Homo sapiens: one gene and its partners. The protein of the gene in region 3 purifies or fractionates together with the protein of the main gene of each other region. This does not show direct contact. Each region holds a gene or a part of one and is shown on either strand. Other genes may lie near its edges.

What was found.
Region 1: the proteins of RBM28 (region 3) and DDX21 purify together in Homo sapiens (affinity purification with mass spectrometry; one large-scale study listed by BioGRID and IntAct). This does not show direct contact.
Region 2: the proteins of RBM28 (region 3) and SDAD1 fractionate together in Homo sapiens (co-fractionation; one large-scale study listed by BioGRID). This does not show direct contact.
Region 4: the proteins of RBM28 (region 3) and DDX24 purify together in Homo sapiens (affinity purification with mass spectrometry; one large-scale study listed by BioGRID and IntAct). This does not show direct contact.
Region 5: the proteins of RBM28 (region 3) and NAT10 purify together in Homo sapiens (affinity purification with mass spectrometry; one large-scale study listed by BioGRID and IntAct). This does not show direct contact.
Region 6: the proteins of RBM28 (region 3) and MYBBP1A purify together in Homo sapiens (affinity purification with mass spectrometry; one large-scale study listed by BioGRID and IntAct). This does not show direct contact.
Region 7: the proteins of RBM28 (region 3) and PAK1IP1 purify together in Homo sapiens (affinity purification with mass spectrometry; one large-scale study listed by BioGRID and IntAct). This does not show direct contact.

Annotation. Positions count from the first base shown.
Region 1 is NC_000010.11:68,959,170-68,962,669, forward strand, and holds part of DDX21 (nucleolar RNA helicase 2), read left to right. Parts: intron 1-636; coding exon 637-1,080; intron 1,081-2,912; coding exon 2,913-2,988; intron 2,989-3,500.
Region 2 is NC_000004.12:75,963,073-75,967,284, reverse strand, and holds part of SDAD1 (protein SDA1 homolog), read left to right. Parts: coding exon 1-8; intron 9-1,462; coding exon 1,463-1,521; intron 1,522-3,073; coding exon 3,074-3,150; intron 3,151-4,212.
Region 3 is NC_000007.14:128,298,461-128,302,672, forward strand, and holds part of RBM28 (RNA-binding protein 28), read right to left. Parts: 3' UTR 1-4,212. UniProt on the Homo sapiens protein: Nucleolar component of the spliceosomal ribonucleoprotein complexes.
Region 4 is NC_000014.9:94,050,203-94,053,702, forward strand, and holds part of DDX24 (ATP-dependent RNA helicase DDX24), read right to left. Parts: intron 2,926-3,500; coding exon 2,796-2,925; intron 1,261-2,795; coding exon 989-1,260; 3' UTR 1-988. UniProt on the Homo sapiens protein: ATP-dependent RNA helicase that plays a role in various aspects of RNA metabolism including pre-mRNA splicing and is thereby involved in different biological processes such as cell cycle regulation or innate immunity.
Region 5 is NC_000011.10:34,135,974-34,140,185, forward strand, and holds part of NAT10 (RNA cytidine acetyltransferase), read left to right. Parts: intron 1-668; coding exon 669-802; intron 803-1,004; coding exon 1,005-1,053; intron 1,054-3,217; coding exon 3,218-3,314; intron 3,315-3,411; coding exon 3,412-3,522; intron 3,523-4,212. UniProt on the Homo sapiens protein: RNA cytidine acetyltransferase that catalyzes the formation of N(4)-acetylcytidine (ac4C) modification on mRNAs, 18S rRNA and tRNAs.
Region 6 is NC_000017.11:4,545,286-4,549,497, reverse strand, and holds part of MYBBP1A (myb-binding protein 1A), read left to right. Parts: intron 1-55; coding exon 56-166; intron 167-848; coding exon 849-974; intron 975-1,187; coding exon 1,188-1,355; intron 1,356-1,440; coding exon 1,441-1,540; intron 1,541-3,555; coding exon 3,556-3,652; intron 3,653-3,736; coding exon 3,737-3,888; intron 3,889-4,152; coding exon 4,153-4,212. UniProt on the Homo sapiens protein: May activate or repress transcription via interactions with sequence specific DNA-binding proteins. Repression may be mediated at least in part by histone deacetylase activity (HDAC activity).
Region 7 is NC_000006.12:10,701,167-10,705,378, forward strand, and holds part of PAK1IP1 (p21-activated protein kinase-interacting protein 1), read left to right. Parts: intron 1-1,202; coding exon 1,203-1,323; intron 1,324-1,398; coding exon 1,399-1,473; intron 1,474-2,238; coding exon 2,239-2,291; intron 2,292-3,340; coding exon 3,341-3,486; intron 3,487-3,580; coding exon 3,581-3,678; intron 3,679-4,212. UniProt on the Homo sapiens protein: Negatively regulates the PAK1 kinase. PAK1 is a member of the PAK kinase family, which has been shown to play a positive role in the regulation of signaling pathways involving MAPK8 and RELA.

The DNA of each region.
Region 1 (3,500 bases), on a different chromosome or scaffold from region 3:
GTATCCCATGAGCTTATCCAAATCCCTTATGAAAATCTGGTTTATAGGCCAAGCACGGTGGCTCATGTAATCCTAGCAGTTTGGGAGGCCGGAGTGGGTGGGTTGCCTGAGCTCAGGAGTTTGAGACCAGCCTGGGCAACATGGGAAAACCCCACCTCTACTAAAAATACAAAAATTCGCTGGGTGTGGTGGTGGGCGCCTGTAGTCCCAGGTACTCGGGAGGCTGAGGCATGAGAATAACTTGAACTCAGGAGTGGAGGTTTCAGTGAGCTGAGATTGTGCCACTTCACTACAGCCTGGGCGACAGAGCGAGACTCTGTCTCAAAAAAGAAAATCTGTTTTACAACTGTTTGACCCACATGAGTTGAATAGTTACTAAGGGGCACTCTTCATTTTCCAAGATAGTGAAACTATTGATATATACCCGTCTATATATATAGCTAAGAAGCGATTTTAGAAAAAGCTTACTATTTTGATTTTTACCTTATCACAGCATGAAAGTACAAATGTCGAAATGCCCCAAAATTGTATTTTTTAAAGTTGAAAATGATCTTGAAATAATCCAGAATTGATGAATGTTGCAAATGTATAAATGCCTTATTCAGTGTTTGTATTTTCCTTATGAATTTTTTTTAGAAAGAGAAAAAAGAGAAGCCAAAATCTGATAAGACTGAAGAGATAGCAGAAGAGGAAGAAACTGTTTTCCCCAAAGCTAAACAAGTTAAAAAGAAAGCAGAGCCTTCTGAAGTTGACATGAATTCTCCTAAATCCAAAAAGGCAAAAAAGAAAGAGGAGCCATCTCAAAATGACATTTCTCCTAAAACCAAAAGTTTGAGAAAGAAAAAGGAGCCCATTGAAAAGAAAGTGGTTTCTTCTAAAACCAAAAAAGTGACAAAAAATGAGGAGCCTTCTGAGGAAGAAATAGATGCTCCTAAGCCCAAGAAGATGAAGAAAGAAAAGGAAATGAATGGAGAAACTAGAGAGAAAAGCCCCAAACTGAAGAATGGATTTCCTCATCCTGAACCGGACTGTAACCCCAGTGAAGCTGCCAGTGAAGAAAGTAACAGTGAGATAGAGCAGGTACATTTGCACTTCATTGGGTAGAAGATATCTTTCATTGTTGTTTCAGATAAATAAGTAGGTAACTGCTATATGTACTCTTTAATAGTAGGAGAAAATGTGATGTGTCAGCACCTTGTGGGTTGGGGGATACCTTAGGCTGACTGGGACTTCATCTTAAAAATTAGCATACGACAGGGCATGGTGGCTCAGCTAAGAGTACTCTGTCTTTTTTATTTTTTTATTTTTTTGAGACAGAGTCTCGCTCTGTCACCTAGGCTGGAGTACAGTGGCACGATCTCAGCTCACTGCAACCTCTGCCTCCTGGGTTCAAGTGATTCTCCTACCTTAGCCTCCTCAGTAGGTGGGATTACGGGTGTGTGCTATCACGCCTGGCTAATTTTTTGTATTTTTAGTAGAGGCGGGCTTTCACCATGTTGGCCAGGCTGGTCTCGAACTCCCAACCCCAGGTGATCTGCCCGCCTGGGCCTCCCAAAGTGTTGGGATTACAGGCATGAGCTACTGTTCCCAGCGGACTCTGTCTTTAAAAAAAAAAAAAAAAAAATTAGCATAGTGTCACAATGCCTCCTTTACAAATAAGCAGATACTGCTTAAGCTTAGGGAGAGTCTTGGTCTGCTTATTTGCAAGTCAGTCAACAGAAGAGATACAGTTTTGTAAATGGGCCCTAGTTTCCCTCTGAGGGGTTTAACCAAATAAATTATTGGAATTACTGAAAAGGTTGATTGCATAAGTCCTTTTGGTTAGGCCATTAAGTAATCATCCTGGAGTTGAACAGGATGATAAAATGTCTGTCCAGAACCTAATTCTGTTATCTTTCAGAAACTCAGTTATGAAAGAAATACGAATTGTATTAAAAAAATTTGTTTTAGACATGGGATCTCGCTGTGTGGCCCAGGCTGGTCTAGAACTTGTGGCTTCAAGCGATAATCCCGCCTAAGCCTCCCGAGTAGCTGGGATTACAGGCACAAGCCACCACACCCAGCTGAAAAATACTAATTCTAATAGATTTTCTTTTTGCTATAGATCATGGTCAACATTTGTAACTTTTTTCCTGATTATAAAAAATATGTGATCCAGAGAAAATAGAAAATGCAGACATTTTGCAAAAAGAAAGAAATGCTTCCTGGAATTTCACCATTCATTTAGTAAATATTAATACCTGTACTTTTCAAGTACAGAAGTCATCTTGTTAATTTTTGGTGTTTCCTTGTAGTACTTTTAGTATATGCATCTATTATTTTTAATCAGATTAGGATTGTACTGTGCAATCTTGTATCTTTTTTGTTTCTAGCTAAGCATTTTCCTCGTTAAGTACGCTTAATGGTTACATAATCCTTCATATAAATGTCTTGAAATCTACTTACTACTTGTATTGAGCATTCAGATATCTTACTATCAAATAATGCCACAGTGACTGCTACCTCATAAAATGTTTGTTCATTTTCTATGGATGTGTGTATACAAGAGATGCTGCTTTGGAAGAGGGCTAATGACATTTCCATCAGTATATTGTTGATTATGGTTATGGAGTAGATCTTAGTTGAGATCTAGTCACACATAATCTTAGTTGAGATCTTAGTTGAGATCTAGTTACCCAGTATATATTTGCCTCAGATTTTTCTTTTGTTAAAGTTTTATAGATTTATGACAATGTTTCCTTTTCAGATCTCGAGTTACCTATCAAGGTTTTTGTATCTTTTTGGTTGATTTTTAAAGTGATGTGTTTAGAAGAATTGCTTTAGGATAGCTTGTTTTGTCTCTTTCTCAGAAGGTTCTCTATTAATTTGTGTAGGTGATTATTGATTTCTTTCTATGGCCCTTTACTTGATAGGAAATACCTGTGGAACAAAAAGAAGGCGCTTTCTCTAATTTTCCCATATCTGAAGAAACTATTAAACTTCTCAAAGGTAATGTTCTTGGAAATATCGTATGATGTTAGAACGTATTATTTTAACAGAAGCACTCCACTATTTTTGTTAAGATGAACCAGGATGTATTCTTATTGTAGGCTGATATATGCAGTCATATAATGAAGTAGGCCTGTGTATTCAATTTAGTACTATAGTAGTGATGGTTCTTCATGCTTCTTAAACAAGTGGTTAAAGCTTTTTCAGGCCCTCTGTGGTGGCTCACACCTGTAATTGATTGAGGCCAGGAGTTTGAGATCTTCCTGGGTAACATAGTGAGAACCTGTCCCGACAAAAAGTTTAAAAATTAGCTGGGCACGTGGTAACACACATCTATAGTCCTAACTACTCCAGAGGCTGAGGAAGGAAGATCGCTTGAGCCCAGGAGTTCAAGGCTTCAGTGAACTGTGGTCACACCACTGCACGCCAGCCTGGGTGACAGAATGAAACCCTGTCTCAAAAAAAATTGTATTTAATACAGTGTGTATTCAGAAGTGTATTGACTAATGGTG
Region 2 (4,212 bases), on a different chromosome or scaffold from region 3:
CCAAAGAGGTAAGCTGCCACTTGCCATGTTTCTTTGGTGGCCTTGGTAATAGAATAAACATGCAAAGTCTTTTGTTCTGGAATCACTAAAGACAGGAGTGCAGTGTGCTCTACATTAGAGATGTGAAGAGAAGCCCTTGTTTTCTTTCTAGAGTTTGCTATGGGTTTGTCGTTACCCTCAACTTTAAGAAACTATTGTTTTTTTAAAACAACAACAACTGCCGGGCACAGTGGCTCAGGCCTGTAATCCCAGCACTTTGGGAGGCCAAGATGGGTGGATTACCTGAGGTCAGGAGTTCAAGACCAGCCTGGCCAACATGGTGAAACTTCATCTGTACTAAAAATACAAAAATTAGCCGGATGTGGTGTCGGGCACCTGTAATCCCAGCTACTCAGGAGGCTGAGACAGAATCGCTTGAACCCAGGAGGCGAAGGTTGCTGTGAGCCGAGATTGTGCCCTTGCACTCCAGCCTGGGTGACAGAGCAAAACTCTGTCTCAAAAAGAAAAGAAAAGAAAACAACAACAACAAATTGGTTTCTCAAAGCAAGTCTTCTTGTAATACTGTAAATACTCATGGAAAATTCTTTTTTAAAAAATTGACGTTTTATTGCATCTTCATAATAGATATTAAGATTTGATCTCACTGCTCACATTGACCTTGCATGCATTCTCAATGAAAAACAACACAAAAGCAGGAAAGAAGAGATGATTGTTCTTGTCTTTGAACCTGAACCAAAGTAGGAAGGAAACTAACATTTATTCAGTATCTAACATGGACCAAGCACTGTGCTAAGTGCCTTACATACGTCATTTTGTCTAATCCTCACATTAATCTTGTGAGGTATACAAAGAGAGGGAAAAAAAAGACTAGAGTCACTCAGCAAATAAATGGAAAATCAGGATTCACCTCACTTCTTTTGCCAGTGGCCTTGTTTGTTACCTATGCTATGCTGCCCCTTTGAAAAGAGACAGTGTGTGTGTGTGTGTGTGTGTGTGTGTGTGTGTGTGTGTGTGTGTATGCATTCATTCAGCAAGTATTTATTTAATGATTTTTATGCCAGGCACTGCATTAAGACAGTACGAATTCCACAGTAAACGTAAAACAAGGTCCTTACCCTCATGGCTTACATCTGGAGGCAGATGTAGATGTGCTATATATAATATGTCCAGGTAAAGATAAGTGTTTTGAAGGAAAAGGAAGCAGGATAAGGACAATAGGGAGTGTCGGGACGGGTTCTGTTTTACATTGTGTGGTCAGGAGAGACTTTTTGATAAGGCAGCTATTGAGTAGGGACCTGAAGAAAGTGAGGGGGTAAGCCAAGCAGATATCTGGGGATTGAGTGTTCCAGGTGGAATACGCAGCAATACCATTTAGACCAGAATGAGCTTGCCATGTTTGCTGTGGTCCTCAGAGGCAGGGTGATACACTGACCATGACCTTTCTGTTCTCTTATGTTTTCAGAAGTAACCAAGATCCTTCTGTTTGCTGCACAAGCATCTCATCACCTAGTACCCCCAGAGGTGAGAACCTGTAACCTGACTTCTGGACCTAGGGCATGGATGACAGTGTTACTGTTAGGTACTTCAGGGTCTATCGGGGGAACCTGCCCCCGATAATTCAACGTGGGTTTTTTTCTATTTCTTGTCAGATGGTCTGAGAAATGAAGGGAAAGAGTACAAAAGAGAGAAATTTTAAAGCTGGGCGTCCAGGGGAGACATCACATGTCGGCAGGTTCTGTGATGCCCCACAAGCTCCAAACCAGCAAGGTTTTATTAGTGATTTTCGAAAGGGGAGGGAGTGTAAGAATAGAGTGTGGGTCACAGAGATCACATGCTTCACAAGGTAATAAAATATTACAAGGCAAATGGAGGCAGGACGAGATCACAGGACCAGGGCGAAATTAAAATTGCTAATGAAGTTTCGGGCACGCATTGTCATTGATAACATCTTATCAGGAGACAGGGTTTGAGAGCAGACAGCCAGTCTGACCAAAATTTATTAGGCGGGAATTTCCTCATCCTAATAAGCCTGGGAGTGCCACGGGAGACCGGGGCTTATTTCATCCCTTATCTACAACCTTAAAAGACAGATGTCCCTAGAGCGGCCATTTCAGAGACCTACCTCTAGGAACACATTCTCTTTCTCAGGGCTGTTCCTTGCTTAGAAAAAGAATTCAGCAATATTTCTCCTATTTGCTTTTGAAAGAAGAGAAATATGGCTCTGTTCTGCCTGGCTCTCAGGCAGCCAGACCTAATGGTTATCTCCCTTGTTCCCTGAACATCGCTGTTACCCTGTTCTTTTTTCAAGATTTCATATTGTTTAAACAATTTGTGCAGTTAACACAATCATCACAGGGTCCTGAGGCTACATACATCCTCAGTTTATGAAGATGACGGGATTAAGAGATTAAAGACAGGCATAGGAAATCACAAGAGTATTGATTGGGGAAATGATACATGTCTATGAAATCTTCACAATTTATGTTCAGAGATTGCAGCAAAGACAGGCATAAGAAATTATTAATTTTGGGAACTAATAAATGTCCATGAAATCTTCACAATTTATGTTCTTCTGCCATGGCTTCAGCTGGTTCCTCCATTCGGGGTCTCTGACTTCCCACAACAAGGGTCATTTTTCCCACAAGGGTTACTGTCCCCCCTTCCCTCACCGTTTTCTTCTTTTAATAGATAGAAGAGACACTAACTCTTAAGGGGATCTACACAGAAGTTCAGTTGTACGTCTCATAAAAAGAAGTTTCTTTCAGACAAGTTGTTTAGAATTCTGATTTTCTTTAATAAGCAAATTTTGTATAACTAGGGGAGGTCAAGAATATTAGTAAATTTATAGAGTAATTCCTTTCTTTGATTTAGTCTGAGGATAGCCAAGAAAAACACTGAATTCCTAAGTGGAGTGTTTTCTTCTGTCTTCCTTAATCTTGATTACTTCCAATTCCTAAACTGAAGGTGGAAGGCTGGGTTTTCCACTATGAATAATCTATTGTCCTTTCATTCTTATGTGTTTGTGTATGCAGACATTTAATCAGCACCCATCTCTTTTTTGTTTCCAATTCAGATTATTCAATCATTGCTTATGACTGTGGCAAACAATTTTGTTACCGACAAGAACTCTGGAGAAGTCATGACAGTAGGGTATGTAGAATCTGGTTGGAGGCAGAAGATACATTGTTTAATGGACTAGATTTGCTATAAGTTACCAAGATGTAAGATTGTAGCTGGTAGTATCACCTCTATAAAATTGGTTTAAAATATATTTCAGTCTTTTTGGGAGGCTTGATAATTTTTTTATTGGTCAGAATTTTGAGAAGGGAGCCAGAGAAAAGATACTTTTCCTTCTAATTAGCATTTTTGTTTTTTAGCAGTTTTACTTTTACAGATGAATAATTGATTAGCAAACTAAGTGCTTTTCTTCTGATCTCCCACCGTAAACTTTGTACTGCTAATAAAATAAATATTTGGCTCCTAGTTCTGGAGCTGGGAAGTCCAAGGGCATGGCATTGGTGTCTGTCTGGCACCTGGTGGGGGCCTCGTTGCTGCATCATTGGCAGAAGGCACAAGGGGAAGAGAGCACAAGAGCCAACAGAGGGCCAAACTCACTTTTTTATAACTCACTGGTGATAAGGGACCTTCTCCCAAGATAACAACATTAGGCCTAATCACTTCTTAAGAGTCTCTCCTCTTTGAACTACAAACCACTGCTCAACAAAATAAAAGAGGATACCAACAAATGGAAGAACATTCCATGCTCATGGATAGGAAGAATCAATATCATGAAAATGGCCATACTGCCCAAGGTAATTTATAGATTCAATGCCATCCCCATCAAGCTACCAGTGGCTTTCTTCACAGAATTGGAAAAAACTACTTTAAAGTTCATATGGAACCAAAAAAGAGCCCACATTGCCAAGACAATCCTAAGCCAAAAGAACAAAGCTGGAGTCACGCTACCTGACTTCAAACTATACTACAAGGCTACAGTAACCAAAACAGCATGGTACTGGTACCAAAACAGAGATAGAGACCAATGGAACAGAACAGAGCCCTCAGATATAATACCACACATCTATAACCATCTGTTCTTTGACAAACCTGACAAAAACAAGAAATAGGGAAAGGATTCCCTATTTAATAAATGGTGCTGGGAAAACTGGCTAGCATATGCAGAAAGCTGAAACTGGATCCCTTCCTGACACC
Region 3 (4,212 bases):
CTATGTTGAAATATTGGGGGTGGGTTCCCCCAATACTTCTGTATTTTTCAGATTCTCTTTACTGAGCATATATTATTTTTACAATCAGAAAAAAATGAACGGATTTATTTTCAAATGCCCCCCATTGCTCTTCTTTAAATATACAGAATATATTCTTTACATATAAAACACTGCTCCTTCAGAGCCAAGCAAAGGATCACTCATTTTCCCCTTAACTGAGAACAAGGGCTGCACATGAACAAAACGCCTGCTTTAAAATGTACCCATGGCTGGATGCTGTGGCTCACACTTATAATCCCAGCACTTTGAGAGGCTAAGGTGGGTGGATCACTTGAGCTCAGGAGTTTGAGACCAGCCTGGGCAACATAGCGAAACTCTGTCTCTATAACAAATACACCAAAAATTAGCTAGGCATGGTGGTGTGTGCCTGTAGTCTCAGCTATTTGCAAGGCTGACGTGGGAGGATCACTAGAGCCCAGGAGGTCGAGGCTGCAGTGACCTGTGATTACACCACTGCACTCCAGCCTGGGAGACAGAGTGAGACCCTCTCTCTCAAAAAAAAAAAAAAATGTACCCATATTTGTTTTCATCAGGTATGGTAAGATGACAGACACAGAGAAAACTATCTCTGCAAGAAGAGTTTGTTATGCAGTTCCCAGGAGGAGAGGTGTGTCACGCCTTGCAGGGCCACACAGGAAGAACTTGGGTCAGCCAAGAAGCAGAGGGGGTGAGGGAAAAGCACGATCCAGCGCCTTTAATGTAGTTTCCAGCAGAAAGGCAAGGCAAGGCAGGGAAGCAGGCTTAGGATTGGCTAATCTGTATAACTTTGGCAGGCCCTGGCTATAGGGATTGTCCCTAGTTGTCCCATGCCTGGCCCTGGAGTGATTTAGGGCAGGGGGAATATTGGCTTGCTGTGTCAGAGTTTGATAAAGGAGGTGACTGGGGGTGTGGGCTCTGGATTGACTGGTTTGCATACGAAAGGCACGCTCGACCAAGTTGTTTACTCTCTCCCCAAAGTAGCTAGCCCTGGGAGGGGCAGTCTCTCCAGGATAATGCATTATAAAAACAACAACAGCACCTGATTAGTATAATGACATATGTTTCTCTTCACAGCAGTTTGTAATAGCAAAGGTTGGAAACCGTTGAATGGGATTTCCATCACATAAAGAACTGGTTATGTAAATTATGTTACACTGATACAATCCAATGAGCCTCCCTTCAGAGAGAGGCACCCTCATGGCCTAATTACTTCTTTAAGGACCCCATCTCAATACTATCACATTGGCAATAACCTGAATTTTGGAAGGGACACATTCAAACCATAGCAGAGATGTAATCAAATTAAGATGAAATCATTGGGCTGGGCCTAAGCCAATATGACTGGTGTCTTTATAAGAAGAGGGAAATTTGGACATAGACCTATAGACACAGGGAGAAGATGGCCATGTGACAACGAGGCAGAGACTGCAGTGATGCATCTATATGCCAGGCAACGCCAAGAAATTCCTCATGAAGGAACCAACCTTGCCAACACTTTGATTTTAGACTTCTAGCCTCCAGAACCGTAAGGTGATAAATTTCTGTTGTTTAAGCCACCCAGCCTGTGGTACTCTCTTACAGTAGCCCTCCTGACTAATATAGGCCCTTTCTCAACTTTCCCTAGAAGCCCAGGTTTCCTTGCTACAACCCTGGCAGAGGCTTTGGCACATTTCACCCCTCCTCTCTTTGTGATTGGTTTTCACAAAGAAGCTCAAAGTGGAGGAATGATCTCTGGACATGAAGCCTGAGGACCATGCAAGCTCCTTCCTGCCAGAGGCTCTGTTCTGGGTTCTACCTGACCTGGACTCTGAGGGCTCTGAGCAGGGAAGGGTTAGAACCCAGCGTGGATCAAACATTTGAGATGAATCAGCACTGATAGCTGGAATGTGAGCTCCCAAGTGGCTTGAGCTCACTCTGCTCAGGACCCTCTGCAGCTCCTGGGGGAACACTGGCACAGACGGGTGCACAGTTAATATTCAGTTAACACCGGCTGGCTGAATGAAGGGCGAGCTATCTTGAGCCTGACTTTTCTGATCCTTCAATGAGCATGCTAACATCATCCAACCCCTGACCTTGTGGTGAGGATCAAAGACGTTAATGCCCACTAAACGCTTTCTACGATGCCTGGAAACAACTGTTATCAATACTGTGCTATGTTTTAGTAAAGAGGGCTGTTCCCTGAGAGCAAAATTGGCAAGTGGGTCTCACCTCCCATGCTGACTCCAATTGTTGGGTGCGGTTGCATGGATTGATGTCAAAAGCCTCCCAAGGCCCAGTCTGGGCCAGATGCAGGGACTGTCATGATCCCTTAGCAGTGTTTGCTCTGGAAAAGGAGGAACAGGGACCTGGGTGCCATCTCTTCACAGCGCTCCACCCCTAGGGCCTGCTTAAATGGCACAGCCAGCTCCTCAGAGAGACAGGACACACTCTCCTTCTGCCTGCAGTTGTGAGGAAAGAAGGGGCACTGAGGAGGATGGGTCACCCCGGGAGCAGAGCCTGGCTCATATCCTGGTATCCCTGCAGAGGCTGGAGGTGGGGCCAGCACCACCTGAGGACATGTAGCCTTCCCAGGATTCTGGCGTGTGTTCCCATCCCTAGCAGGAAAGAAGTGGAAATTAGCCAATCACCCTGGAAGTGGGCAACCAGTCTTTCTCCCCTTTCCTGTGAATTCACTCAGGACACTGGGGACAAAAGACATCACAGACCCTATCTCCCGTGCTCTTTTACAGTGGCTATTTCATTTAGTACTAGGGGGCTTTTTGCCTGTATTTTATAAATGAGCAAAGAGGACTGGAGGGTCTGAGTGATTTGTCCAGGGTCATCCTCTGTCCTTTGGCTTTTACCTGTGTCACCACAGCCTCCTGGGGAGATGGCTGTGAAAGTGGGCAAAGGGTGAGTCTCAGCTTCACAGGGCTGCAGCATCAGCAGCCTCTCTTGCCTGTCCGTCAGCACTGACAGGGGCAACACCTGGCCTGGCACAAGGCTCTCCGCTTCTTGCCCTCAGGACTTGGAGTCTCTTGGAAGGAGCCTCAGCCCTTCTCTTGGTTCCTGCTTTTGTCTCTAGCCTTCCTAGAGTAGCTCAGATCAGTTCACACCCCTCTACCCACGACTACCCAGGAAAGGACATGATCCCTCATTAAGACCCAGCTATTGCCTAAGGGTCACTGAGGGCCTCAAACCCCAGAGGCTCTGTGGCAGGCACCTGGGAGCCCACTTGGCGGGCCTTGCCCTGGCCCAGACATCACAGACCACTCTCACTGCACTGGCTATTAAGTGCCTGCTCTCTACTAGGGATTCCTAGGGGGTGGCCAAGAGAAGGAAAGACACCCCCACAGGAAGGATGGGCCCAGAAACTGACTTTCCATGGCTCCGACGAGGGGTCCTGAGGCACTCTATCGAAGTGCAAGTCCCTGAATCTGTGTCCCAAGCTCTGAAAATGCAAGAGGTGCTTGGAGCAAACAGGGAGTGTCCTGTCACTGAAGGTCTGCAAGCAGAGGGGTAAGGGACTGTTTGCCTCCTACAGATTTCCCTTCTTTCTCTTCTTCTGGGCCTCTGGGCCAGAGACAGGCATTTTACTTGATGCGATCATCCTCAGCACATGCCTGACACATAGTAGGTGCTCAGTAATTGTTAGCTGTTGTTATTAACCATTATGTGAGTTTAGAGTGCCCGTCCTATTGCAGAGAGGGAGAGAGCAGAGACAAATGGTGATTCTAAGAACCTGTCCCCTTCCCTGGGACTCACTCCAGTGGCTGGTCGCCAGTTGCACCCACACGCGGCTGGCTGCGGGCAGGAGAGCTGGGCTCATTCGTTCTGGCAGCTGTCCCTGCAGATGAGGATCGAGGGTATGTGACTGCCTGAGCAGCTACTTCAATCCTAATGTCCCTTTAATAGCTCTCGTCAAATTGCCACAGCTCTCCCCAGAGATTTTCATGGCTATGGAAAATAAATAGCCATTATCTGACCTCCAGGGGAATGAAGATGTCTGCAGAATTCGGGGAAAAGCAGTTATAAAACTGAGTAGAGCCAGCGCACCCTTTCCCTATTAGCAACCTCTAAGGGAGTCCTAGCTACTGCCTAGGAAATCACAAAATAAATGTATTCACTCCTCAGACTCTCTTTTTTCACCTATTAGTATGTATATGAGTACATTTGGCTTGTGGTAGATCAGGA
Region 4 (3,500 bases), on a different chromosome or scaffold from region 3:
GTTCCCTGAGCACATATTTATACCAGGCTGACCAAGCCTTGAGTTCCTCTTCTCCCAAGGAGCTCAGCTAAGGGAACACAGCATGGCAAGTGCTATGAAGAGGGTAAGCACGGGACACTAAGGGAGCCCCAGGAGAAGCACTGCTTCCCCTTAGAGGCTCAGGACTAGAGGACCCATGGCAGTGCTCCAGGATGGAGAAGGCCAAAAGGCAATCCAGACCGAGGGAAAAGCCTATTCTGCACAAAGGCTCAGGACAAGAGAAGGGGTGCATGGAACCGTGGGCAGGAGCCTGCTCTGTCAAACAGGAGGGAGTGGAGACAAGGCTGGGGCTAGATCCTGAGGGCTTCACACGCCAGACCTAGCGACTGTTACTGTTGGCTCTGTGATGTGAGGGAAGCCTGAAGACAGCAACCTCATCCCTGCCCACCTCCCACGGTGGCTCAGACAATACCCAGGAGAGTGGAGAGAGCTAAGGAGCTATTAGGGTGCTGCTCTGGGTAAAGCAGGAACATGCACCTCTTGAACATTCCAGCCTCTTGCTCCATTCACACTGTCCAATCTTGGCCTGCAGCCAGAGGCCTGACACTATTCCTGTCCTTTCAAGGGCTTAGCACTGTGCTGGCCCAGGAGAATCACTAAGTTAATAATGAAACAAACTACACCACCACCCCCATCTTCTATCTAAAAAAAAAAAAAAAAAATCAGGATGACACAATGGCTCTGACCATTGTTTTTAATTTATGAAATCAAGTTTAACACACAAGAAGCCTATAAACACTGCAATACAGAAAAATTAAGCTGCTGCATTGAATTCTTACTCCAAAACAATGCAAATCTGCATGAGGTCTCTCCCGCTATGGGTGTGAGTGGAAGAGAGGGAGACTTTTTTACCTGGGGTTGGTGGTGGAGTGAAACACAAGGGTGGGAGAGGTTTTGCAAATAGCCAGAGAACAGAAACCAATGTGCAGTCACTGACACACTTGACCAGTTAATTTGCACTTGTACTTGGCTGTGGCTGTTCCGGCTGTGGCTCCTTCGGCTTCTTTGTCTTCTTCTTCTTCTGCTTGGAGAGACAGCTCAAAGCAGACTCGCTCTTACTTGGGGCAGACACAAGCAGGGGCGGCTTGCCAGACTGAGTGGGATACTTGGTTTTCTGGCTCTCCGTAAACAGTGGCTGGGACAGCAGGTGGCGCAGCTCCTTCTTCAGAACCTTCATCTGCTTTTGTCTCCGACGTTCTTCTTGCTGGTCAGCTTTTCCTCCTTGAAACACAATACAAAAACGATCCTATTTACTATGGTTTGTAGAAACATTTTGTTTCCCTTGATGGGTAACACAGTGAAAAATGTTTTAGAACTACTTTAGGGAGGCAGGGTTCAAAAGTTCTCTGAAGAAGCTAGTGGTGGCTTGGCAGGGGCTGTAAATGGATAACGTCTAACCATTTGCAGGGGATACACAGGACCGCTCTGTCCTTTTTTACTCCATAAAAATCCTCCAAGACTGGAATTATCTTTACAGATGAGGCAACTCAGGGTTAGAGAAGTCACCTGGCTCACATCACAGAGCCAGTCATCAGACAGAGCCCAGAACCCAAGTCTCCTGACTGAAGATCACTTTTCTTCCTATGACCCACCCACTTACTGCCCACCTGGGGTTTGGTGAGTTCACAATTACAACCCCCACCTCCCTGCCGCCCCAGGAGACACTGAATGCTTCTTTGTAGCCCAGCTCTCCTATGCCTTGCCACCAGTGCTGTGACTGCACATGGAGAAGCTGGCAGAGCCAAAAGGTTCCACCTCAGTCTGTCCTCAGGAAGGGAAGCCAGGGCCTCCACATCTTCGGCCCAAGCCCCAACCCTGAGCCACCAGAAATAGCTCACTGTCATCAAGCCCACTGGTTTGGCTCCTGGCTTCCATGCTGAGCAGACAGCAGTTAAGTCTGCCTCTGAATTTGCTGACTTGGGCACCGAGGTGTCAACATCTCTGCTGAGCTGCATACTTGGTGGTGTGGAAGGAGCATGGAGTTCTAGATTTGGTTCTACCACTTTTTAGACCAGGAGTTTTCTCAAGCAGGGACCGGGCAGATTCATCCCTGAAGCCTCAGCCTGTGGTCACATATAGAGTAGCAGCTCTGGAAATGCCTTGTGACAGAGCTGTTTCCCTGCACAAACTGCCTCTGCTGTGGTATCTAGTTTCCATATGTAAAAGAAGAGTACTTCCTGCTGTGTTCATGTCATGAAAGTGGAGAAGATCAAATGAGATAATGGCATGGAAGTGCTTTGTCAGCTTGGAAGGCAGGTGTAGTAGGAACCATAATGACAAATAACTTAAAATGTAATACTTTCTATTTGCCAGGCAATGCTATAAGCACTTAACATTTTTTAACTCAATCAGTCTTCACAACAATCCCATGAAGTAGGTAGTTGACTACTTCCATTTTATGGAGGAGAAAGCTGAGAACACAACAGAGGTTAAATAACTTGACTCAGTCACATAGTTAAGGCAATGAGCCGGCATTCTAACACAGGCAGCCTGGCCAGAGAGCCTGCTCCCTTCCTCACTGTACTCCACTGCCTGTCCATGTAAGAGGAGGCAGCTGAGGGCACAAGACAGAGACAGAGGAAACAAAGACTGACCGAGGGCAGTAGGCTCACCTGGGACCAGGGCCTGTTAGCAAAGAGGGGGAAGGACGCCTTGCTGATTTTGACAAGACCCACAGTAGTAGAGATGGTTCCAACAAAGCAAAAGTTAAAGAGAGATTTCAACTTCCTCAATTCCCATCCCGCCCAAGGGCTTACCCTTATACATGTCTTCTTCCAGCTCAATCTCCAGGGCAGCTGCTGCCTGCTCAATCCAAGAGTTGTGCAGGCAAGCCTGGAAGTTCCGATACTCAGATTTCTCAATCTGTCGAGCTAAACGGATTCGCTCCTGGGGGGAAGTAACAGAAAATATTCATCTGAAATAGAGTTCAGGCCTCTGGGAAGCAAAGTCTCACTTGAGTTGTGTTTGTGTGTTTAAGGCAGGTATCACTCTGCTGCCCAGGCTGGAGAGCAGTGGCATGATCATGGCTCACTGCAGCCTCAACCTCCTTGGATCAAGCAATCCTCCCACCTCAGCCTCCCAAGCAGCTGGGAGGCACCACCATGCCTAGGTAATTTCTTTTTTTTTTTTTTTTTTTTTTTTTTTTTCGTAAAGACAGGGTCTCAACTGTGTTGTCTAGGCTGGTCTTGAACTCCTGTGCTCAAGCAATCTTTCCACTTCAGCCTCCTAAAGTGTTGGGATTACAGGCGTGAGCCACCGTGCCCAGCAAGTAGTGTTTTTAAAAAGCTCTTGAGCCGGGCATGGTGGCTCACACCTGTAATCCTAGCACTCTGGGAGGCCAAGGCGGGCGGATCACCTGAGGTCAGGAGTTCAAGACCAGCCTGACCAACATGGAGAAACCCCGTCTCTACTAAAAATACAAAATTAGCTGGGCATGGTGGCGCATGCCTGTAATCCCAGCT
Region 5 (4,212 bases), on a different chromosome or scaffold from region 3:
AAAAAGTTCAAGCTCAGAGGTTTGTCACTTCCTAAGGCTGTCAGGTGATAGAACCTGGACTTCATGCTGGATCACAGGAGCCTGCCTGTCCCTTTGTAAATCTGTTGGGCATTTTTTTTTTTTTTTGAGATGGAGTCTTGCTCTGTCTCCCAGGCTGGAGTGTAATGGCGTGATCTCAGCTCACTGCAACCTCTGCCTCCCAGGTTCAAGCAATTTTCCTGCCTCAGCCACCTGAGTAGCTGGGACTACAAGCACACACCACCGTGCCTAGCTAATTTTTGTATTTCCAGTAGCGATGGGGTTTTGCCATGTTGGCTAGGCTGGTCTCAAACTCCTGACCTCAGGTGATCCACCCGCCTCAGTCTCCCAAAGTGCTGGGATTACAGGCATGAGCCACCACTCCCGGCCTCTGTCAGTCGTTTCTAAACTCTTTGGCTGTCTTCCTGCATTCTAGAGGTCTGAAGCAGTGTGATTCTATGCATGTTGAGGTGTTTTGAGAATGATTGCTTGACTCCGGTGTTCTCATAGTTTGAAAACCACAGCAATAAACCAAGAAACCTCTCCCAGTTTTTGTTGTGCTAAGTCCAGAGTGCGCTGCGGCAGGGTGCTTGACGATGTCTCTCTCCCTCTGCTGAATGGACTGTGTTCTCTCCTTGGCATCTTCCCAGGCTGTCAGCTTGTTGGAAGAGGTCATCACTCCCCGGAAGGACCTGCCTCCTTTACTCCTCAAATTGAATGAGAGGCCTGCCGAACGCCTGGATTACCTGGGTGTTTCCTATGGCTTGACCCCCAGGCTCCTCAAGTAAGTGCCTGCCCTCCTTCCACGGCATCACTCCTTGGCATTGAGAAAGAAGAGTTCTGTGGGCTGTGTGTCTCTGTTGGTAGCTGGTATCGGTGCTAGCCTGCTATTTGTGGCGTGCTCTTCCTGGCTCTTGCCCTTGTGTGTCTATCAGCCACTCCCCAGAGGCCACACACAGTGACCTACTGTCTTTGTATCTTTGCAGGTTCTGGAAACGAGCTGGATTTGTTCCTGTTTATCTGAGACAGACCCCGGTGAGTGAGGCATCCAGCAGAGGAGAAGTTTAGGTTTACCGTTATGGTAGGTGACAGGCCTGTCCTTGCAAAGAGCCCTAGTGCCTCCCTGCTGCATCGCTCTGAGCAGGTGGCTGTGCCTCTGAAGAGGTTTATTCTGATGGACATGGAAACAGCCATCCTCAGTGACAGGCCACATCATCACACATTTCTTCTCCGACTACACGGTGCATGCGTTGAGCTTAGTCATAAAATGGCAGAGGTACACGTGGACTTGTTCATCAGATTCTGGGAAAGGAGAGTGGACAGGAGGATCAAGGGTAATTCCTAGAGTTTTGGCTTGAGAAACTGGGTGTTGGAGGTGCTGTCGGAGATGGGACTCACTGCAGGAGGAGCAGATTTGGAGGGAAGAGTGGGAGTTCTTTTTTGATGTTAATATGAGATGCCTATTGGACATCCAAGTGGAAATGTGGACTAGGCATTCATTTGACTACAGGAATTTGGAGGTAGGGAAGTTTGGGGCTAGAGATGGAGCTTTGGGAGCCATCAGCATATTCATAATAGAATGCACTGCAGGAGGGCACGGAGCTCTTGTCTGTTGTGTTCATTGCTGTATTCCTCGCACTTAGAGTAGCAATTGCTGTGTAGTTTGTGTTCAGTAAATACTTTTGTTGAGTGAATGAAAAATATCTGGAGCCAATGAAAGGATGTGAGAGTGACTCCTTGGACCCTAACGTTTAGAGGAATGAAGAGGAGGACACAGCACATACAAGACTGAGAAGGAACAGCCCTGATGCGCAAGAGAAAGTCGGGTGTGGTGTCACACGTCAAGGTGAAAAAGTGGGAATGGGAGTCAGCCCTGTTGAGAGGATGAGGAGGATGAGGACAGCTGGCCATTGGATTTGTCAGCAGCGGTGAGCTGCATTGAAGCAGCTGCAGTGGAGTGGAGGCTTTGGCCTGGCCAGAGGGAAGAGGAGGTGAAGAACTAGAAGGGGAACAGGCGACTCTTTCAGGAAGCGAAAGGGAGCAGAGAAACAAGGTCGCTGGAGGGAGATGGGCGCTAAAGAAGGATTGTCCGATGGGAGATTCTAGAGAATGTTTTTTGCTGCTGGGTTCGATCCTGCAATTAGTGGTATGGGTGAGGGGGGCTGACTGCCAGAGTGCAGGCCTTGAGGAGGTGGTGGGTGGGACTCGAGATTCAGGAAGAGAGGTGACCACCTACTTCATCCTTCGGAACAGGGAAGGCAGAGAGCGTGGGAATGGAAGGCATCAGTTGGCTGGCTGATCTGGGGTTGGGAGGATGAAGACATTGTCTTCTGAGTGCTTCTGTCTTCCCAGATGAGGGGAGTCCATCGGCTGAGAGGGAAGTGTTGGAGGTTTGATTTTGGAGAGGGCAAAGTCAGTATCAGAGGCTAGTGTCCAGTGTCCGTCCGAGGGTTTAAAGTGGGACTGGTGAGGACTGCTGGGTGTTGGGCTGCTTCCGTGCAGGCAGGGAGCTGCAGAGATGGGTTGAGTCTCTGTCAGTACATTTGGTGGAGGCTGAGGATGTAAGTTTGGCTGTCAGCTGCAAGGAGAACGCAAGCTAGTGAGCTGTGGTGTGGTCTGCGGTGTGTCCGTGTGGTCTTGCACTGTGCACTGTTCATTTGTGACTTGGTGGTGTTTTTATGGTGTGGGGCTTTGTTGTTATGGAGTAAAAAATGTAAAAATAGTCACAATTTTAACACCTAAAGAAGCCTGCACTTGCAGACTGGCTGCCAGCACTGAGGTGTAGGTTTTGGCCCTGGAGTTCCTGCTGTGAGGCATCAAACCCATGTTGACTGGATTGTGTGGCGCTTAAGCCCTAATGACTGAGTTCAGCATCTACCTGAGAGGAGCACATATTTCCCTCCCGCACGTCCCGAGCAAGAGGCAGGCCCAGAAGAGCCAGCAGCTCTTCTCTGTGTCTGTGACACTTTTGAGGAGATTGCAGGACAGTGATCTTTGCAGCTGTTGTGTGTGAACTGAGGTGATATGAGGAAGGTGAAGGCGAGGGCTGTTTGAGAAGGGCGCCTACCCCCAGCCTGGAAAGAAGGAGAGGCCTGCGGAAGCACTAAGCCTTTCTTCTCTGAGTGTTTACCCTTCATCAATGATGGGTTATTCAAAAAAAGGGGGTTCTTGGTGCCAGTTAAACCTCTGTGTTGCCCAGAATGACCTGACCGGAGAGCACTCGTGCATCATGCTGAAGACGCTCACTGATGAGGATGAGGCTGACCAGGGAGGCTGGCTTGCAGCCTTCTGGAAAGGTGACTGAGGAGTAGGGGTTTGGGGGAGACAATGAGGTGATTGGGGGCTGCCGGGGATGCCTCCAGACCTCTAACTCTGCGTGATGGCACCCCACAGATTTCCGACGGCGGTTCCTAGCCTTGCTCTCCTACCAGTTCAGTACCTTCTCTCCTTCCCTGGCTCTGAACATCATTCAGAACAGGAACATGGGGAAGCCAGCCCAGCCTGGTGAGCCGGGTGGGGACAGGGAGGAGGGTTGGGAATGGCTTGGCTGTGTGGGAGGTGGGTGTGGTGTCCTAGGAAGGGTTTGGGCTGGAAATTGAGGGACTGGTTCTAGCCTGCAGTCACTCGCTGGTCACCACCCGCTTGCCAGGCCCCTGCTCTGTCCCAGGCTGTGCTGTCTTTCATTTTCATGGTAAGACTCTGGCTGTGCAATTTAATGTCAGAGGTGTCCATTTAGTTCATGTAGCTGGTTGGTTATGGAGGCCGATTTACATCTGTGCTCTAGGGGAGTGAGGTGCTCCATCTCTGAGGTTTAGTTTCCTGATTCATGAAATTGTAATAAGAATATGCTGCTAGCCTTCTGTAGCCAACAGCACACAGAAGTGCTTTGTGCATACAGATTGTTTGAATACTTAAAAAACAAAAAATGTGTAAGAGATTAGTTTTATTGCATATTTTATATATAAATATTTAGGTATAGCATGCATATATGTGTATATGTGTGTGTATATACTTTTTTGCCAATTATATTTTGATGGAGAAATCCGTATATCTTGAGCTGGGCAGAGCTTACACACTTTCTGTGACACCAAATGAAGTGACAAAGCAGGGAAAGAGTGTAGTTGTGTTCCCCTAACCCTGGGCCACAGGGAGCTTTTCCTTGGTCCATGTGTTCAGTATGGGAACTGAGCAAGG
Region 6 (4,212 bases), on a different chromosome or scaffold from region 3:
GCCTGTTTCTGCCAGTTATAAGTGGCTCACATGACCTCGCCTCCTGCCCCGCTAGGCCTGAGCGAGCTGTGTTCCGGCTGAGGAAATGGATCATCTTTCGATTGGTGAGCATTGTGGACAGCCTGCACCTGGAGATGGAGGAGGCCTTGACTGAGCAGGTGGCCAGGTGCGAGCTGTGCTGGATTCCCAGCTTCCCATGGGCGTGTGGCCAAGGAATGGGGCCCCTTAACTCGTCCTAGTTTGCATCCCCTGGAGCCAGAAGCCTTTGGGTTGAGTCATCAGTGGGGGGCAGGCACAAGGGGACTTGGGAATTCCTCAGGAACCCGTGAAGGGAAGGGGCCCAGGAGGCACCCCAGCTGCAGGGGCCTAAAAGGTTCAGGTGTGCTCTGCGCGCCCTGCAGGCAGCTTTTGCACGTGGGAGGTGTCAGGGAAGCCTTCTGCCCCACACCTGCCTCGTCTGTGCCAGTGCAGAGCTGGGTGCTCACGTCACCCTCAACATGCACGGTTGCAAGAGGGGGCTGTCCCATGTTCGCAGGAGCAGTGACCTGACTTGGCCATGACCACACAGCCTCCCATCTGTTGGTTCCTTGAGAGGGGCACTGACTCTCTCTAGCTCGGGTTAACCCGCGTTCAGCTGGGGATCCAGAGCAGAGAAACGGCCCCTTCCCATCCTAGCCCAGCCCAGCCCCCTCCAGCCTTGCCCGTCAGGCCCCCGAGGACTGTACCCAGGGCAGAAGGGCGGCTCCTCCTCCTCCTGGCCTTGTACCCTCGGTGGTACCATCCAAGGAGGGGAGCCTGTAAAAACCAATGGCAGTGAATGGCTATGGCCACTCTCCCACCCTCCCCAGGTTTTGTTTGTTCCACTCGTTCTTTGTCACAAAGAAGCCCACATCCCAGATCCCTGAGACAAAGCACCCGTTCTCCTTCCCTTTGGAAAACCAGGCCCGAGAGGCTGTCAGCAGTGCCTTCTTCAGGTGAGTCTTGGGCAGCCCAGGAGAGGTCCGAAGGTGGGAAGGCCTTGAGGGCGCCTGCTCCCTCCAGGTCCCCTAAGCTGGGAACAACGGCAGAGGCCCCCGGAGTTCTAGTAGGTCCTGGAGAGGCGGGAGACCGAGCCCTGGGGAGGGCGGAGGGAGGCGGCTACATTGACTCATCTGGTCTGCTGACCCCAAGCCCCATCCCTTGCCCAGTCTGTTGCAGACCCTCAGCACGCAGTTCAAGCAGGCACCGGGCCAGACCCAGGGTGGGCAGCCCTGGACCTACCACCTGGTGCAGTTCGCAGACCTCCTGTTGAATCACAGCCACAACGTGACCACCGTGACACCCTTCACTGCGCAGCAGCGCCAGGCCTGGGACCGGTGAGCACGTGGGATTTCCAGGGGGTGGGCAGGACGCTGCAGTCTGACTGGTGCAGGGGCCTGGGAATCGCCTGTCTCCCCGCAGGATGCTGCAGACTCTGAAGGAGCTGGAGGCCCACTCCGCAGAGGCCAGGGCTGCTGCCTTCCAGCACCTTCTGCTCCTCGTGGGCATCCACCTCCTCAAGGTACTGGGGCCTGGGAGGGAGGGGCTGTGAGCCTGGGGTTCTATGGCACAATGGGCCCCCTACCGAGAGGCTTTTGAGGGCTGTGCGGGTTTCCAGGAAAGGTTCTGGGGGAGTTAAGTTGGGAGGTTTTTGAAGCCAACTTTGTCACAGGTGGAAACATCCCTCCGGCCACTTAGCGGCACCAGCTGGTGTCCTAGGCTTTCCATGCAGGATCTCGTAATCCCCACAGCTTTGAGGCAGACACCCCCTCTCCATGTTTGACATGGAGAAACTAAGACTCAGAGGCAAAGGAGCTTGCACTGTACCCCCTGCTGTGGGAACACCTTCTGGCAACGGGCTCTCCCGCTCGGTTCTTCCCATCAAGAAGCCCTGACCACATTCGAGGCTCAGTACCCTGATTTCTTTTGAGTTTTCTTCTCATGACATAAGCTGCTCTTATTGGGGCTGCTTTAGGTCTTCTGTAGCCTGAGTAGGTGGGTCTCTTGCTTGCTCCCGTCTGGCCACTTGACTGTGGTTGCCTTACTTGCCAGCTTTGGTTATTCTGAGCCCAGCATGTGGATGAGCTGTTTGGGGAAAGGTTGGCCACGATGCCCCTTCCAATTCTTGACGTCAGGCCTTTGATAGCAGCAGAGTCCTGGTGATTCCAGGACACATGTGGAGCCTGCCCCCAGCCTTGGGATCTCCGAACTTGACTTGGACAGAGGAGGCTGCAGTTTGCTGTGTCAGAGCCTTAGATAAAAGGTGCAGCCCTGGCCAGGCTCGGGGCTCGCACCTGTAATCCCAGTACTTCCGGAGACCAAGGCAGGTGATCACGAGGTCAGGAGTTCAAGACCAGCCTGGCCAACAGAGTGAAACCCCTTCTCTACTAAAATACAAAAATTAGCCAGGTGTGGTGGCAGGTGCCTGTAATCCCAGCTACTCAGGAGGGTGAAGCAGGAGAATTGCTTAAACCTGGGAGGCGGAGGTTGCAGTGAGTTGAGATGACACCACTGTACTCCAGCCTGGGCAACAGAACAAGATTCTGTCTTAGAAAAAAAAAAAAAAAGGTGCAGCCCAGAGGAGGACGGGGACCTGCTTGGGCACACAGCCTGGGAGCCGGAGAGCAATGACAAGGGCTTTGGGCTGCTTTGTCCCACCCTGGCCTAAACGTTCAAGCTGCCGACTGCATTATGAGGGGAAAGTCTGCTTTTTAGGTACCAAAGATCACACAGTTTTCAAGAGCTCCTGCACACGCACATGCGCACACCACGCCACCTCACTCGAGTCTGGGGTTATCCCCAGTCAGATGAGTTCAATGTAATTAAATTAGTTAAAACTAATGACTTTCAATTCTGTCTCTCATGCCAAGCCAAGCATGGAGGGAATAATCTAGAATTATGAATTGGGGGCTGGGGCTTGCTGGCTTCTCTGGGACCCTGACCATCCTTGTCAGGTTCTGCCTTTCTTGAGTGTCCAAGGGGGAGTTGGACTCCTTGTCCCCTTCAGGCTTTTGGATCCTGTAACTGCGTATTAGGTGTGAAAAAGCCGTCAGCTAGCTGGGCGCGGGGGCTCACACCTGCAATCCCAGCACTTTGGGAGGCCAAGGGGGGCAAGGGGGTGGATCACGAGGTCAGGAGTTCAAGACCAGCCTGGCCAACATGGTGAAACCCCGTCTCTACTCAAAATACAAAAATTAGCCGGGCATGGTGGTACACGCCTGCAATCCCAGCTACTTGGGAGGCTGAGGCAGGAGAATGGCTTGAACCTGGGAGGCAGAAGTTGTGGTGAGCCGAGATCAGACCACTGTACTCCAGCCTGGGCAATAGAGCGAGACTCCATCTCAAAAGCCCTCAGCTCTTGGGGTGTCCAGCTGGGGTCTTCTGTTCTGGATTGTGGGGGTGACTGGCCAGGGCGGGCCAGTGGCTGGGTGTTGGAGGCTTCTTGATGCCACTGCTGCCATTTGGCCAGCCCCTTGCCTGGTTTAGAAGGGCTGGGGACAGGGCCTGGCCCCAGTGTGTGTCCTACCCTGCCCGCAGTCCCCTGCAGAGAGCTGTGACCTGCTGGGTGACATCCAGACCTGCATCAGGAAAAGTCTGGGAGAGAAGCCCCGCCGGAGCCGCACCAAGACCATCGGTGGGTCCTTGGTCACGAGAGGGACTAGAGTGGTGGGGTGGGGCCAGCGGTCCCCTATCCGGGCTCAACCCCTCCCTCTTGCAGACCCCCAGGAACCCCCGTGGGTAGAGGTGCTGGTGGAGATCTTGCTGGCCCTGTTGGCCCAGCCCAGCCACCTCATGCGCCAGGTGGCCCGGAGCGTGTTTGGCCACATCTGCTCCCACCTGACCCCGCGTGCCCTGCAGCTAATTCTGGATGTGAGTTGGGACCTTTGGGAGTGGAATGTGGGCTGGGGCTCACTGAGCAGCGAGCTGCACCAGGGGTGCCGCTTCAGCCTCCAGCCTCCCTGCCGGGAGCCTGCGGCCGGTGGGAGGGGTCTCAACGAGGCCTTGGCCTGGCCTGGCCGCCTCTCCTAGGCTCCGTTTTCTTCTGGGAAATGGAGGTCTTTGGTCAAGGCTGAGTGGGGCCTGGAGAGGAGGGCGGGGGCTGCAAATGGGTCAGTGGCTGGCACCCCTCCCCAGGTGCTGAACCCCGAGACCAGTGAGGATGAGAATGACCGTGTGGTGGTGACGGACGATTCT
Region 7 (4,212 bases), on a different chromosome or scaffold from region 3:
CCCGGGTTCAAGCGATTCTTGTGCCTCAGCCTCCTGAGTAGCTGGGACTACAGGCACACACCACCACATCCAGCTAATTTTTGTATTTTCAGTAGAGACGGGGTTTCGCCATGTTGGCCAGGCTGGTATTGAACTCCTGACCTCAAGTGATCTGCCTGTCTCGGTCTCCCAAAGTGCTGGGATTACAGGCATGAGCCACCTCGCCTAGCCAGTGTTTAATTTTCTCTTCCTGCATTAGTTTGCTGGGGATAATGGCTTCCAACTCCATCCACATCCCTGCAAAGGACATGATCTCATTCCTTTTTATGGGTGCATAAATCCTATTTTTCTAAGAGTTGCTAATAGATAAGCTTTTTTCTAGGGAAGCAAATGTGGGAAACCAAACTTTCCAAAGTGAGAAATAGGATAATAGGGAGAGGAAAATATGAACAAATGAATGAGAAGTGTGTGGAAATGGATCAAAACAGATCTGAGTGATAAGGATTGGATTGTGGCTGATTGGGTAGCTAATTCACTGTTTAGAAAGTGGAAGTCATGTGGCAGTACACCTGGTTTGTTCCCCAGATTAGCTTGTTAGCTGATTAGTTTTGTTTACTTCTGCTCAAACTATCCTAGCCAGCCACCTCCTAAATTTATAATTTGAAGACATAAAGCAAGGACGTGAACTGATTTGTTCAAATCTGTATCTAAACTGGAGATACTCTGCTGAAAATATTTGCATAGATTTGAACAACTGTACTTACATGAAAAAATTTAAGGTATGTTTTAGTAATATTAAGACATTGAGGCCAGGCACAGTGGCTCACACCTGTAATCCCAGCACTTTGGGAGGCTGAGGTGGGCAGATCACTTGGGCCCAGGAGTTCAAGACCAGCCTGGGCAACATGGCATGGTGAAACACTGTATCTACAAAAAATACAAAAATTAGCTAGGTATATTGATGTGCACCTGTAGTCCCAGTTACTCAGGAGGCTGAGGTGGGAAGATTGCTTGAACCCAGGAGGCAGAGGTTGCAGTGGGATAAGATCATGCCATAGCACTTCAGCCTGGGTAACAAGAGTGAAACCCTGCCTCAAAAAAAAAAAAAAGAAAAAGAAAAAAAGGTATTGAGTGTTTTACTTAGCATAGCATAGCCTTCAAATCAGAAATGGAGTTTGCATTTAAAATGAATATTATTTTTGCCTATTTTGGTTTTTCCATAGGTACAATAACTTGCCTGAAATTCTATGGCAACAGGCATTTAATCAGTGGAGCGGAAGATGGACTCATCTGTATCTGGGATGCAAAGAAATGGGAATGCCTGAAGTCAATTAAAGCTCACAAGTGAGTCGGGCTCTTTCCCTTTGGCATTCTCGATGTGCCAGTCAAGTTGGGGACTAACTTTTGGTTTCATTATAGAGGACAGGTGACCTTCCTTTCTATTCACCCATCTGGCAAGTTGGCCCTGTCGGTTGGTACAGATAAAACTTTAAGGTAAGTCATTAATGCTCAAGAGCATTTATCTAAGGTGTGTGTTTTACTACAGCTCTCCACCATCTAAAAATACTGTTATACAAGGGAAAGGTCAAAAGCTGGTGAACCTTTTCATAGTGGTTCATAGTGGTAGAATGAAAATGACAAGCTCTGTTTTCTTTCTTTTTTTTTTGAGACAGAGTCTCGCTCTGTCTCCCTGCTCTGTCGCCCAGGCTGGAGTGCGGCGGCGTGATCTTGGCTCACTGCAAGCTCCGCCTCCCAGGTTCATGCCATTCTCCTGCCTCAGCCTCCCAAGTAGCTGGAACTACAGGCGCCCACCACCACGCCCGGCTATTTTTTGTATTTTTAGTAGAGACGGGGTTTCACCGTGTTAGCCAGGATGGTCTTGATCTCCTGACCTCATGATCCGCCCGCCTCAGCCTCCGAAAGTGCTGGGATTACAGGCGTGAGCCACCACGCCCAGCCAACAAGCTCCGTTTTCAAACATGCAATTATGCTGCAGTCATCATAGCTGTGAATTGAAGATTTTAGAAAGGGAAACCTTTTGAAAATACAATGGATACGAGATGTTAAAGGGATATGGGAATGAAGCAAGTCTTAATCCTGCCTCATAATATTTCAAAATATTGCTGTAAGGAAGATAGCAGGTCTTCTAAATAGCCAATATTTAGTAAAATGTCACTTAAGTCTTCATTATGCTTGTTCTTTTACGCTTAGTAAAAGTTAGTTGGTGATCACACCGTAAGTGAGCTTCCTGTTTTGCAGAACGTGGAATCTTGTAGAAGGAAGATCAGCATTCATAAAAAATATAAAACAAAGTGAGTATTTTTGTTTGAAATGCAGGTTGAGCATTCCTAATCTGGAAATCTGAAATGCTCCAAAATCTGAAACTTTTTGAGCACTGATGTGGTGCCTCAAGTAGAAAATTCAACACCTTACCTCATGATGGGTCACAGTCAGAACCTTGTTTCATACACAAAATTATTTAAAATATTGTGTAAAATTACCTTCCGGCTAGGTGTATATGAAGCATAGATGAATTTCATGTTTAGACTTGAAACATGAGTTGCATGGGTTTTATCCTCGAGATATTTCATTGTATATATGCAGATATTCCAAAATCCAAAATCGTTCTGGTCCCAAGCATTTTGGATAAGGGATACTCAACCTGTATATTTTACAGTGACTTAATGGAATATGAATATAGATATACATTTTTACATGTGTGTATGTTACACATTTATTTCCCTGCATGGTGGTGGTTACCTCTGAGCAAATGCCTTGGGTTACTTTCTTTTCCCATTTTAGACTAGATTCTTTTTGTGGCTCTGCCACCTGCCTTTGATTTTTATTTTGTTTCATTTTATTTTATTTTATATTTTTTATTTTATTTTATTTTTTGAGATGGAGTCTCGCTCTATCACCCAGGCTGGAGTGCAGTGGCGCTATCTCAGCTCCCTACAACCTCTGCCTTCTGAGTTCGTTATTCTCCTGCCTCACCCTCCCAAGCAGCTGGGATTACAGGCGCGTGCCACCATGCTTGGCTAATTTTTTGTATTTTTTGGTAGAGAGATGGGGTTTCACCATGTTTGCCAGGCTGGTCTCAAACTCCTGGCCTTAAGTGATCCACCCACCTTGGCCTCCCAAAGTGCTGGCATTACAGGTGTGAGCCACTGCACCTGGCCCACCTTTGACTTTTTGAACCTAGATTATTTTCTAAAAAACTTGACTTGTAAAATGTGTTACGAAGATGAAATAGGATAATGAATTTGAAAATGCACAGTATAAATATTTGCTATTTTTATTACTATGATCATTTTATGTTTTATTTACAAAATAAATAAACTTCGTTTTTTTCCACTTACAGATGCTCACATAGTAGAATGGTCCCCAAGAGGAGAGCAGTATGTAGTTATCATACAGAATAAAATAGACATCTATCAGCTTGACACTGCATCCATTAGTGGCACCATCACAAATGAAAAGAGAATTTCCTCTGTTAAATTTCTTTCAGTAAGTAATCAGAAATCATTGACCAAAGTTTGTGGTGATGGTTGGAACTGTTGATGACATTCTGGATGTTATTACTCTTTTTCCTCTCTCCTAGGAGTCTGTCCTTGCAGTGGCTGGAGATGAAGAAGTTATAAGGTTTTTTGACTGTGATTCACTAGTGTGCCTCTGCGAATTTAAAGCTCATGAAAACAGGTATTTTTACCAATCTTTGGTGTATATGTCTAGTCTTAATAAAAGGTATATATGCAGTAGTTTCATAAGCCAGGTTATATGTTTTTATTAACAACTGCAGAAATAATCAGACATATCTACATGTACAGTATATGGTATCTGTAGTCTAATAAGGTGGTGGAAGATGTTATCTTCCTGGCATTTAATAATGCAAAAGTGGGCCGGGAGCAGTAGCTCACGCCTGTAATCCCAACACTTTGGGAGGCTGAGGCGGGCGGATCAGGAGGTCAAGAGATCAAGACCATCCTGGCCAACATGGTGAAACCCCGTCTCTACTAAAAATAAAAAAATTGGTGTGGTGGTGCACGCTGGTAGTCCCAGTTACTCGAGAGGGTGAGGCAGGAGAATCACTTGAACCCTGGAGGCGGAGGTTGCAGTGAGCCAAGATCGCACCACTGCACTCCAACCTGGTGACAGAGTGAGACTCTGTCTCAAAAAAAATAATAATAATAATGCAAAAGTGGTGAAATTGTTTTCTGGACTGTCATTTACACA